2 linked regions of the Homo sapiens genome follow. The protein of the gene in region 2 interacts with the protein of the main gene of each other region in a pairwise test. Each region holds a gene or a part of one and is shown on either strand. Other genes may lie near its edges.

The links.
Region 1: the proteins of ABCG4 (region 2) and TMEM50A interact in binary tests that used the Homo sapiens proteins (3 or more experiments, as listed by UniProt).

Annotation. Positions count from the first base shown.
Region 1 is NC_000001.11:25,341,180-25,348,472, reverse strand, and holds part of TMEM50A (transmembrane protein 50A), read right to left. Parts: intron 5,513-7,293; coding exon 5,400-5,512; intron 2,200-5,399; exon of another isoform or gene 2,096-2,199; intron 1-2,095.
Region 2 is NC_000011.10:119,158,922-119,163,316, reverse strand, and holds the end of ABCG4 (ATP-binding cassette sub-family G member 4), read right to left. Parts: coding exon 4,388-4,395; intron 3,091-4,387; coding exon 2,932-3,090; intron 2,780-2,931; coding exon 2,661-2,779; intron 2,437-2,660; coding exon 2,211-2,436; 3' UTR 664-2,210; downstream 1-663. UniProt on the Homo sapiens protein: ATP-dependent transporter of the ATP-binding cassette (ABC) family that may be involved in the cellular efflux of sterols, in particular cholesterol and desmosterol (a cholesterol precursor), to high-density lipoprotein (HDL).

The sequences.
Region 1 (7,293 bases), on a different chromosome or scaffold from region 2:
CCTCGAGATCCTTCCACCTCGGCCTCCCAAAGTGCTGGGATTACAGGCGTGAGCCACCGTGCCCGGCCTACCCTACATTTTTAAAATTAAAAAATACAGAGTAATACACAGAACATTTATTAATATTTTTAAAGCCACAAAATCAGAGAACTTTTGTAATAAGAGAAAAAATAATAAAGTCATTAATGAAAGAATAGCTGCTTTTTGACTCCTATCCATTTGAATTATAATTAACTAACAGTTTTTGTTTAAAATTATGGCCTGACACTATCTGACACTATAATAAAAAGATGTAAACTGAAGCCAAATAGATGATAAACATTTATAAAGACATGAAGTCAGCTCTGCTATAATTATGTTAATGCAACAGAATGTAAGTTTAGCAGGAAACACGTTTGAATAGTACATTCAAGCTCATATACAGCTATAATTCCCCTCCATAGTCAGACTTGCTACTGCTTCAAAATGGAACAAAATAATTTTTTAAAGATCTGAGAACAAAAGCAGGACAAAAATACAATCACAAAAATAAAACTTTTAAATCTAAACCAATGTTGAAATTTAGGTGTCAGCTTTCTAAAAGAATTCTAACAGCATCATTATTACGGTAAAATAAATTGCAACAAGATGGAAAGAACTAGAAATAGCTGCATACTGGCTGAACTTCAAAGAAAAAGACCACAGCCCTTTGCTATCAGTGGCTTCTGAAGTCAGACCTTTACTTCTGCGAATGAATAACTACTCTGGCACTGACTCCATGCCAGGCACAGTCAAACTGGCTGCCCTTAGCCACTTGCTTTACTCTGAAAATACAAGTTACTGTGTTTACACTTAAGTAACTGTAGCAAAATTTAAAAATGTGTGTAATTTTCAACTTGGATTACCTGGAAGCCTGTATGAGATGACTCTACAACCTAAATTAAAAGTCTACAGAAGGCCGGGCATGGTGGCTCACGCTTGTCATCCCAGCACTTTGGGAGGCCAAGGCAGGTGGATCACCTGAGAGGTCAGGAGTTCGAGACCAGCCTGGCCAACATGGTGAAACCCTTCCTCTACTAAAAATACAAAAATTAGCTGGGCACAGTGGTGGGCGTCTGTAATCCCAGTTACTCAGGAGGCTGAGGCAGGAAAATTGCTTGAATTCAGGAGGCAGAGGTTGCAGTGAACCGAGATCATGCCACTGCACTCCAGCCTGGGCAACAGAGCAAGAGCCTATCTCAAAAGAAAAAAAAAAAGGTCTACAGAAAGCTGATGGACAATGGTAGAGGTCAGGATGGGGGCTATACAGGTGTGATGGAAGTGCTGATTGAGAATGTTCTGGGGTGATGTTTTAAATCTTGATCTAGATGCTGTTTACATGGGTGTATATATAAGAAAAATTTGTTGAGATGTATATATGACTTGTGCACTTTATGTATCTCACTAAATGCGTTTTTTGTTTGTTTGTTTGTTTTGAGACAGAGTCTCACTCTGTCTCCTGGGCTGGAATCCAGTGCCGTGATCTTGGCTCACTGTAATCTCTGCCTCTCAGATTCAAGTGATTCCCCACCTCAGCCTCCTCAGTAGCTGGGACCACAGGCATGCACCACCATGCCCGGCTGATTTTTGTATTTTTTTGTAGAGACAGGGTTTCACCATGTTGGCCAGGCTGGTCTTGAACTCCTGACCTCAAGTGATCCGCCCACTTTGGCCTCCCAAAGTGCTGGGATTACAAGTGTGAGCCACCATGCCTGGCCAGAATGCATTTTATATTACATTTTTAAAATAATAAAGGCAGAGAGCACAGTGACTCACACCTATCATGCAGCACTCTCGGAGGCCAAGGCAGGAGAATCACTTGAGACCAGGAGTTCAAGAACAGCCTGGGCAACATAGTGAGATCCTGTCTTTACAAAAAAACTGTTTAAAAAATAGCTGGGTGTGGTGGTATGTGCAAGTAGTCCTAGCTACTGGGGAGGCTGAGGCCAGAGGACTGCTTAAGCCCAGGATTTTGAGACAGTAGTGTGTTATGATCACACCATTTGCACTCCAGCCTGGGTGACAAGCGAGGCCCTACTTCTAAAACATTTTTTTTTTAATTTAAAAGGAAAACCTGATTCTTTTGTAGTTCTTAGGCACGATGATTGGGTGTTCATGTGCATGTTTGAGATGTGCCTCCCTCAAACCTTGTTCTTACATCAGCACCTTACACGTCTAACATGAAAAGAAAAGAAAAGAAAAAAAAGAAAGGCCCACAGAGAGAGTTGATCCCTAAAGGAAGCATTCATAATTAAGGAAACAAAGGCCCTTAGAAATTAAAACATGAGAACTGAAATGCAAAAATGTTTAACAGATTGGAACATAAAATAAAAAGATAAAGAGATGAGAATTCTAAGAAAACATATCGGCCGGGTGTGGTGGCTCACGCCTGTAATCCCAGCACTTTGGGAGGCCGAGACAGGTGGATCACTTGAGGTCAGGAGTTCAAGACCAGCCTGGCCAACATGGTGAAACCCGTCTCTACAGAAAATACAAACACCAGCCAGGCATGGTGGTGTGTGCCTGTAATCCCAGCTACTTGGGGAGGCTGATGCAGGAGAATCAATTGAGCCTGGGAGGTGGAGGTTGCAGTGAGCAGAGATCATGCCATTGCACTCCAGCCTGGGCGACAGAGCAAAACTCCATCTCAAAAAAAAAAATAAATAAATAAACAAACTAAAATAAATACTTTTTTCTTTTAAATTTATTGAGACGGAGTCTCCCTCTGTCGCCCAGGCTGGAGTGCAGTGGTGTGATCTCGGCTCACAGCAACCTCTGCTGCCCAGGTTCAAGTGATTCTTGTGCCTCAGGCTCCCGAGTAGCTGGGACTACAGGCACGCAACACCGTGCCTGGCTAATTTATTTTTTAGTTTTTGAGACAGAGTCTCACTCTGTCGCCCAGGCTGGAGTGTAGTGGCATGATCTCTGCTCACTGCAACCTCCGCCTCCTGGGTTCAAGCGATTCTCCTGCCTCAGCCTCCCGAGTAGCTGGGACCACAGTCACGTGCCACTATAGCCGGCTAATGTTTTGTATTTTTAGTAGAGACAGGGTTTCACTGTGTTAGCCAGGATGGTCTCGATCTCCTGACTTCGTGATCTGCCTGCCTCGGCCTCCCAAAGTGCTGGGATTACAGGCGTGAGCCATTGCGCCCAGCCTTTTTAAATTATTTTTAGTAGAGATGGGGTTTCACCACGTTGGCCAGGCTGGTCTCAAATTCCTCACCTCAGGTGGTCTGCCCGCCTTGGCCTCCCAAAGTGTTGGGATTACAGGCGTGAGCCACCATGCCCGGCCAAAGTAAATACTTCTTGTATCCAAAAAAAAAAAAAAAAAAAAGAAGATGTGGTAACTGGAAAAACAGTGGATTCAACCCTGATCAACAGGGGAGGGAAGTCCCATGGTGACAGTGCTGCAGCAGGCTTACACAGTCATTAATTCATAATGAAACAGACAGATACGGGCTTCTGGGATGTTGATTTCTAAAACAAAAGAAGTTATAATACATTAAAGAATATAATTGAGAATTTGGGAAAAAAATAAAGATGTGATAATAGTAGAAAATGCAAGAAAACAAAGAAAAGGCAGCTAGAAACTCTAGGAAAAACAAAAAACTGAACAAGGCTACTACATTCCACATAGTAACTGTCCAAATTAGAACTGCAGCATTCAAGAAGAATAAAATGAATCCTAAAGAAAATATACATTCTTTCTACCAACAACCACCAAAAAAAAACAAAAAACAAAAAACAAAAAAAAACAATCAGAAACTCTAGGAAAGGTCGGGCACAGTGGCTCACACCTATAATCCTAGCACTTTGAGAGGCCAAGGCAGGTGGATCGCTTGAGCCCAGGAGTTCAAGACCAGCCTGGCAAACAAGGTGAGACCTCGTCTTAATTAAAGAAGAAAAAAAAAACTATAGGAAAAAACAATACTAAATAACAAAGTCACAGCCCAAGTATGAAGCAAACTAAACGATTTTATGAATTTGAGAAACTGGTAAGAATACAAGAATATTTTCAAAATACATTGATAAATTTGAGAAGCACAGAGTCATGGTGCTTATACTATTTGGCACTGCAATAAATTTTGTTTACCGGTTTTAAAAATTTTTCAACAGGAATGCTCCTATTAAAATATAAGGTCATTTCATTCCTCTGCTCGAAACCTTCCAATGGCTTCCATTACACTTACAATGAAAGTAAAGTTCTTATTTTTGTGATGGGGTCTTGCTCTGTTACCCAGACTGAAGTGCAGTGGCACAATCATGACTCACTGTAACATCGACTTGACTTCCCAGGCTCTGGCAATCCTCCCGCCTCAGCCTCCGGAGCAGCTGGGACCACAGGCATGCCCTACCAATTTTTGTATTTTGGTAGAGATGAGGTTTCACCATGTTGCCCAGGCTGGTCTCAAATTCCTGAGCTCAAGTGATCCACCCACCTCGGTATCCCAAAGTGCTGGAATTACAGGCATGAGTCACTGCATCCAGCTGAAAGTAAAGTTCTTATAATGCTTCTCAAGGCCCTATACCATCTGTCCCTCTCCACCACTTCTTTGACCTCATCAATTTCTCTTTCCCTTGATCTTGCTACTGCAGTTATACTGGTCTCCTTGCCGTAAAGCCTTTGTACTTGCTGTTTCACCTGCCTGGAATGAACCTCTCTTATATATCCCCATCCCCTGGTCAGCTCCTTCACTTTCTTCAAGTCTTTACTCAAAGTCACCTTCTTAGTGAGACCTTCTCTGACTCTGCTGAAAATTTCTGGCCACGTGTGGTGGCTCACACCTGTAATCCTGGCACTTTGGGAGGTCGAGGTGGGAGGATCACTTGAGCCCAGGAGACCAACCTGAGCAACATAATGAGACACCCTCTCTATAAAAAAAAAAATTTTTTAATTTCTATCCCTCCTATTGACATCCCTTTCTCCTTTGCACTTATTTGCACATATCTCCTTTCTCTATTTTTTCTCCTTTGCACTTATTTTAAATGACAAAAAGACATGGATTTTTCCTGTTTTACTAACTACTATATGTCCTGTACCTAGAGCAGAGTCTGGAATATAAAAGCTTAATAAATATTGTTGAAAGAATTATCCCTTAGACAAAATACACAGTTTCGGACTTAAATATAAAGCTATAAACCCTGGGGGTATAAAATAAAAGAATAGCTGAGAGAAGCTGGGAGGGAGTGGAGAGGTACACAAAAAGAATAAAGAGGACTGCTGCTTTTCTGTATAAGTCCATCTCTACTGTGTGACTTTTAAATCATGTCCAGTGTGTTAATCTGATAATATTTAGAATTTTAAATCTATGCAACTATATTTGAAACATTTTTATTTTGTGGCAAGCTATGTAAGTAATGCCAATTACGATGACACTTACATTAGGAAGGCTATGGTTGCTATAACACCACAGGCATGGTATGAGTGGTTGAAATCTTTCATGGTGGGATAAATAACAGCTGCATCTATGATAATCCACCAGCCTGTAAAAAACTAAAACAAAGGTGATACCAATGAGAAATCATAGCAATTCTGTATCTCACTGGCTAAAAGCAAGGTATTTAAGTGAGGAGATCCCTTTTAATACATTTCAAAAATGTTCTAGCTTTTTCCCACATGTAATTTGCACATGGCCTAATAACTGATTAGGTACCCTTAAATCTGAGAGCAATTTATATTTATTAACATAACTTTTCTCTAAGCCTACTTCAATCATTATTTAATTTTTATCATAATAAAGCCTTGTAATCTAATTTGGTGAACTAGAAACCAGTTATCTCATGGAGGGGGAAAGGAAAAAAGTGACTCCAATTCCAACTGACAGAAGTGTCCTGTTGATATATGATAAACTTCCAGAGAAATATTCCCCAAAATCAAGAAAAAAGCATTCAAATTAATATGGAGAACAACTATTGTTCACAGAATTTTAGCTATCTTCTTGGTGTGAAATAACAGCTCTGAGGTTCTGCTTTTGATGAATTCCAGTGCAGTCTAAATATGGTTTCAGGTGTGATTTTAAATTTAATTTAAACACCAGATTACAATTTATCTAATTGAATTTGGCTCTAGATATTATCAAGGGCAAAGGTATAACAAAATAACGCCAAAACTTCAAAAACAGTTTTTATCATCTGAGCAGATATTTACAATAAAATTATATTAACCAAATTCTGACAAGTAGCCTAGAAGATTTTAAAAGTAACCCCCTTTCCTTTCCTATCCCCACACCAAACCCTGACTCAGTTAGCTCTGGCAACTGACATCTTCTGGCAATTATTTTAAAGTAACAATTTTAGGCTAGTCAAATTACTTTTATCAGGTTACAGACAGATCCATACTCGATTAATAACATTTTTAATGGCTAGCATGAGTACATATGCCTTTCTTTTTACCCTCAGCTCAATGTATTTAAGATATTTTCTTCATAGACTAAAAACTCAAAGCTTTTTGGCCAGGTGCAATAGCCTGTAATCTCAGGACCTTGGGAGGCCAAGGCCAGTGAATCACTTGAGCCCAGGAGTAGGAGACCAGCCTGGGCAACATGGAGAGACCTCATCTCTACAAAAAAAACAAACAAAAAAAAAAACAAAAATTAGCCCGGTGTGGTGGCCTTCATCCGTGGTCCAGGCTACTCCGGAGGCTGAGGTGGGAGGATCACCTGAGCCCGGGAGGTCGAGGTTGCAATGAGCAGTGATTTCACCACTGTACTCCAGCCTGGGAGACAGAGTGAGACCCTGTCTCGAAAATAAATAAATCTTAAAGCTTAAGAAAAAATGGCTTGGTGCGGTGGCTCATGCCTGTAATCCCAACACTTTGGGAGGCCGAGGCAGACAGATCATCTGAGGTCGGGAGTTCAAGACCAGCTTGACCAACATGGAGAAACCCCGTCTCTACTAAAACAAGAGCAAGGCCAGGCGCGGTGGCTCACACCTGTAATTCCAGCACTTTGCAAGGCCGAGGCAGGCGGATCACGAGGTCAGGAGATCGAGACCACGGCGAAACCCCGTCTCTACTAAAATACAAAAAAATTAGCCGGGCGCAGTGGCGGGCGCCTGTAGTCCCAGCTACTCGGGAGGCTGAAGCAGGAGAATGGCGTGAACCCCGGGAAGCGGAGCTTGCAGTGAGCTGAGATTGCGCCACTGCACGCCAGCCTGGGCGACAGACTGAGACTCCGTCTCAAAAAAAACCAAAAAAAACAAAAACAACAACAACAAAAAAACAAGAGCAAAACTCTATCTCAAAAAATAAAAATAAAAAATTACTCTTTAGAGCCT
Region 2 (4,395 bases):
GAAGACCTGGTCTCCAGGCCTGGCTCCTCCTCCATTCGTTGAGGGCCCTTGGGTAGGTTACTTAACCCAAGTCTCAGTTCTCTCATCTACAAAACGGGTTGTCATGAAGGATGGTGCAGGGTCAGCATGAGACTCCCTTGAGATAATGAATGTGAAGCCTCTGTGAGATGGACAGCATGATGCAAATATTTCTTTTTTTTTTTTTTTTTTTTTTGAGACGGAGTCTCGCTCTGTCGCCCAGGCTGGAGTGCAGTGGCACGATCTCGGCTCACTGCAACCTCCGCCTCCCGGGTTCATGCCATTTTCCTGCCTCAGCCTCCCGAGTAGCTGGGACTACAGGCACCCGCCACCACGCCCGGCTAATTTTTTGTATTTTTAGTAGAGATGGGGTTTCATCGTGTTAGCCAAGATTGTCTCGATCTCCTGACCTCGTGATTCGCCCGCCTCGGCCTCCCGAAGTGCTGGGATTACAGGCGTGAGCCACCATGCCCGGTGACACAAATATTTCTTAAGCTACATGTTCACTAGCTTGACATGTACCTGGGACCTACCATCCCCTGCCACAGACTCCCTACAGCTGACAGGCCTCATGCCAAATGCTTTGAAGGCCCCCTTGCAGGGCACAGTACCAGGTGGCAGATCCACACACATTTACACATTGCATACTGTATAAATATAGGTTTTATTAATAATGGGTGAAATCCCACAAATACAACTGGCATCCCTGTGTGATAGGAAGAATCTGTGGCAGGGTGAGAGGAGGTAGACAGGGATGTGTACAGGAAAAAGGGGGAAAATGAGCCCTGGGGGAGGGGAAATCAGAAGCAGAATGAGCCTGGACCCACCAGGAAAGCCAGACATGCTCTGAGTGTGTCTGCCACCTGGTGCCCAGGGCAGGCTGTTCTGATGCCCAGGGGCCACCTGCTGATAGGAACAGTGGAGGGACATGGACAGAAGTTTGAATGAGCAGCAGTGGCTGGGGAAGGGGTAGGGGAGTGAAGATGCCAGCATGGAGCACAAAAGGAGGGCCGTGGGTGGCAGTGGCCAAGGCCAACTTATGCCCGTGGTTGTGCTTGTGTTGGTTCCTGAACTCCAGGGATCTAGTGCCCTGTGCCACCCCTGGCTTGGGAGGAGGGAAGACTTGGGGGTAGACACCTGCAGTTCCTGTAGACACCCTGGGCAGCACCAGCCTTATCCTTAGAGTCTCCAACATGGGATCCCCAGGAGGAGGTTGGCACTGTCCTCCCACCAGCACCCGCCACCACCAGCATGCCACCATCACTCTTCCTCTGTGCTGTAGGGGATGGCAAGTGTGTAGGGCTGAGATGGCCTGTTCTCATGTATGTGCCTGTCACTCCGGAGAGGGAGGGAGCATCACGAGACCGTGCATGCGTTAGGGGCAGCGAGAAAGGAGGGTTGGGTCTTCCCCCACTCACCCCCCGCCCAGAATAAAGTGCATTCTCCAGTTCCAGTGGCAGGTGGGAGAGAAACACAGACATTATTGCACAGGTGCCACCAGGCCCTGCCCCCACCAAAGGTGATGGGGAGGGGGATGGGGCATCCCACAGCCCCAGGCCTCTCCAATCCCCAGGATTGGGAGTGGTGACCTAGACAGAAAACCCAGCTTCTGTCCTGGCAGATTGTCCAAGTCAGCCAGGGTCTAGGGGTGGAGAGAAGAGGAGGAGGAGGAAGAGACTTCCAGAGTCCTTCCCTGTCCATTTCAACATCCATAATGGGACTTCCAGTGGACTCCACCAGGGCCCAGCCCTGGAACTCCAACCTTATAGCAGCCCAGTTTACAAACACTTGTGTGGTGGGGACCCCCAGAGGGGGCCACTTTGGTCAGTTGTAAGTGGGGCCCTAGAGAGCCTAGGGCTCCCAGGCAGACAGCAGAGGAGGGTGCCATGGGCAGGAAGGAGGCAGCAGCCTCCCAGTAGTCTTTGCATGCAGGTGTTGGAGAGAGTAGGGAGGAAGCTACAAACCGCATCAACTTGGGAAGACTCCTGGGCATAGTGGGGAGGGCTGGAGCCCCCACTCCCAGAGCCCAGGCTGGGAGCGCAGTCCGACAGCCAGCCTGTGGAGGAGCCAAGGGAGGAGAGGATAGCCCCGCCAGGAACCAGTGCCCAAGTCTATAAGGTTAAAACAGTCCCAAAGGGCTGGGACTGGGGGCTTCCTGCTGCAGGGGCTGGGGTACAGGCTGGGGCAAGCCTCTATCTCTCTGACTTGACCCGGTAACGCAGCACAAGGTAGGCCAGCAGCCGCAGGGCTAGGAAGAAGATGCCCAAGACCAGGAAGTCCATGTAGAGCTTGGCATCCTCCACATCCAGCGCTCGGAGGATGCTCTGTGGCTCCCGGAACGGGCAGCGTTCCTCTAAACATGTCAGGTCTCCTCGCTCCATGCCATAGATCGTCAGGATCACACCCTCAAAGCCATACCTAGGCAGGCAGGGATATCAGATGGGATACAGCACACAGGGTCCCTGCTCTCTGAGAAAACTGCCAGAGCCCAGCTGCAATGCTGTCATCCCTGGGGTGCAGCCAGGGTGCCCCTGCCCAAAGGATAATGGGGCAGGCAGCAGACTTGGCACAACCCAGGAAGCCCTGGGTATGGACTCCTCCAGGGAGGAGCAGAGGCCAACGAGGAGGGCAGGGGTACTGACCTGACATAGGAGAGATAGGAGCTCCATTGCAGGTAAGTGGGGATGGTCTTGAAGCTGACAAAGAAGCCGGAGAACAAGAGGACAGGGATGGCGGTAACTGGGCCCACAAAAGTGGCCACCTAGAGGGGAAGGGAGGGGGCCAGGCCATCATAGGGGTGACCAGGACAAACCCAGGTTTCCTAGAGCTCCACCCTAACCCTTGCACCAGGCCCTGCTTCCTCCCACAAGACCTCATCCCGCCTTGGGAATTCCCAACTGCCAGCCCTCCCACCTGTAGGGAGTTGGAAGCAGCTCCGATCAGCAGCCCCAAAGATTGGGCCACCAAGGCGGTGGCGGTGGCCAGGGCTGAGAAGAGCAGGAAGCGGCTGGTCTCAGCGGGCTGGCCCGTCATCCAGTACACAATGCTGCAGTAGACCACCGGACACACCACCTGGGGAGTGGGCACGGGCTGGACAGTGGACTTCAAGCCAGGGGCACAGCAGCCAAGACCTCCACTCCACCCAAGGCTGGGCCTCTAGAATACCTATTCCCAGGGTGTCCATCCTGCCTCCACATTCTTGTTCAAGCTGTCCCCCAGATTGACACACGTCCCCTTCCTCCCTGGCCATATGACCATCACTTATCTCGTCTCACGTCTTCCGTTTGGTCCACCCTGACTGCTTCAGGCACGGTGACTCTTCCCTTCCCTGAGCGCCTAAAGTCCTTCCCACCTGGACCAGCTTATTCGTTATATTGTTAAGTAATTAACTCTCCATAGGAGAGCCATTTTGTTCCCCCATGAGCTACCAACTCCTAGGGGGCAGGGTCTGAGCTTACTAAGTACAGTCATCCACTGCTCAAGGGCATCCAACCAAGAGCCAACCAGGCCAAAGGTCCAGCTTGTGCTCTTCTTATTAAGCCAAGCATCCTGTGACGGTGTCCACCCTGAGGAAGGGGCACCTTTTTCTAACTTGCACAGATGTGCCCTATGGATTACTGGTGGCCCTGATGCTTGGAACAGGGTGGTATTGGCGGTAACAACAACCAGCTAACATTTGCTGGGCACTTCGTATGTGCCAAGCACTATTCTAAGTACTTTATATACATTAACTCATTCAATTCTAACAATCCTGAGGTAGATACTATTGTCATTCCATTTTATAGATGGGTACACTTTAGCAAAGAGAGTGATTTGCCCAAGATCTTGCAGGTAGCAAGTGGCAGTAAGAGCCAGAGAGTACACCATTTTCTACTGCCCCTAATAAGAGTTACAGAGTCATTTGTAGGGTTATTGCCCCCAGTAGCTGGGACTACAGGTGCACAACACCAAGCCTGGTTAATTTTTGTATTTTTAGTAGAGATGGGATTTCGCCATGTTGCCCAGGCTGGTGTCAAACTCCTGAGCTCAAGTGATCCTCCAGCCTCGGCTTCCCAAAGTGCTGGGATTACAGGCGCAAGCCACTGCGCCTGGCCCTATAGGGTTATTTTCATCATTTTCTGTTTGTTGTCAGTTGTCCTCACTAAAACATAAGTTCCACATGGTCAAGACTACATCAGTCTAGTTCAATGCTATATCCCTAGGGCCTGGTACAGAGCCTGGGCTATGACAGGTACTCACCATCTATTTGCTAAGTGAGTAGAAGGACAGCAAAGGAAGGAAAGTGACAAGTTTGAGGGAGGCAAGAAAGCAAGGATAGAAGGAGCAAGACAAGATGGAGGCAGTGGGCAGGTGGGAGGAAGAGGCCCACCTGAAAGG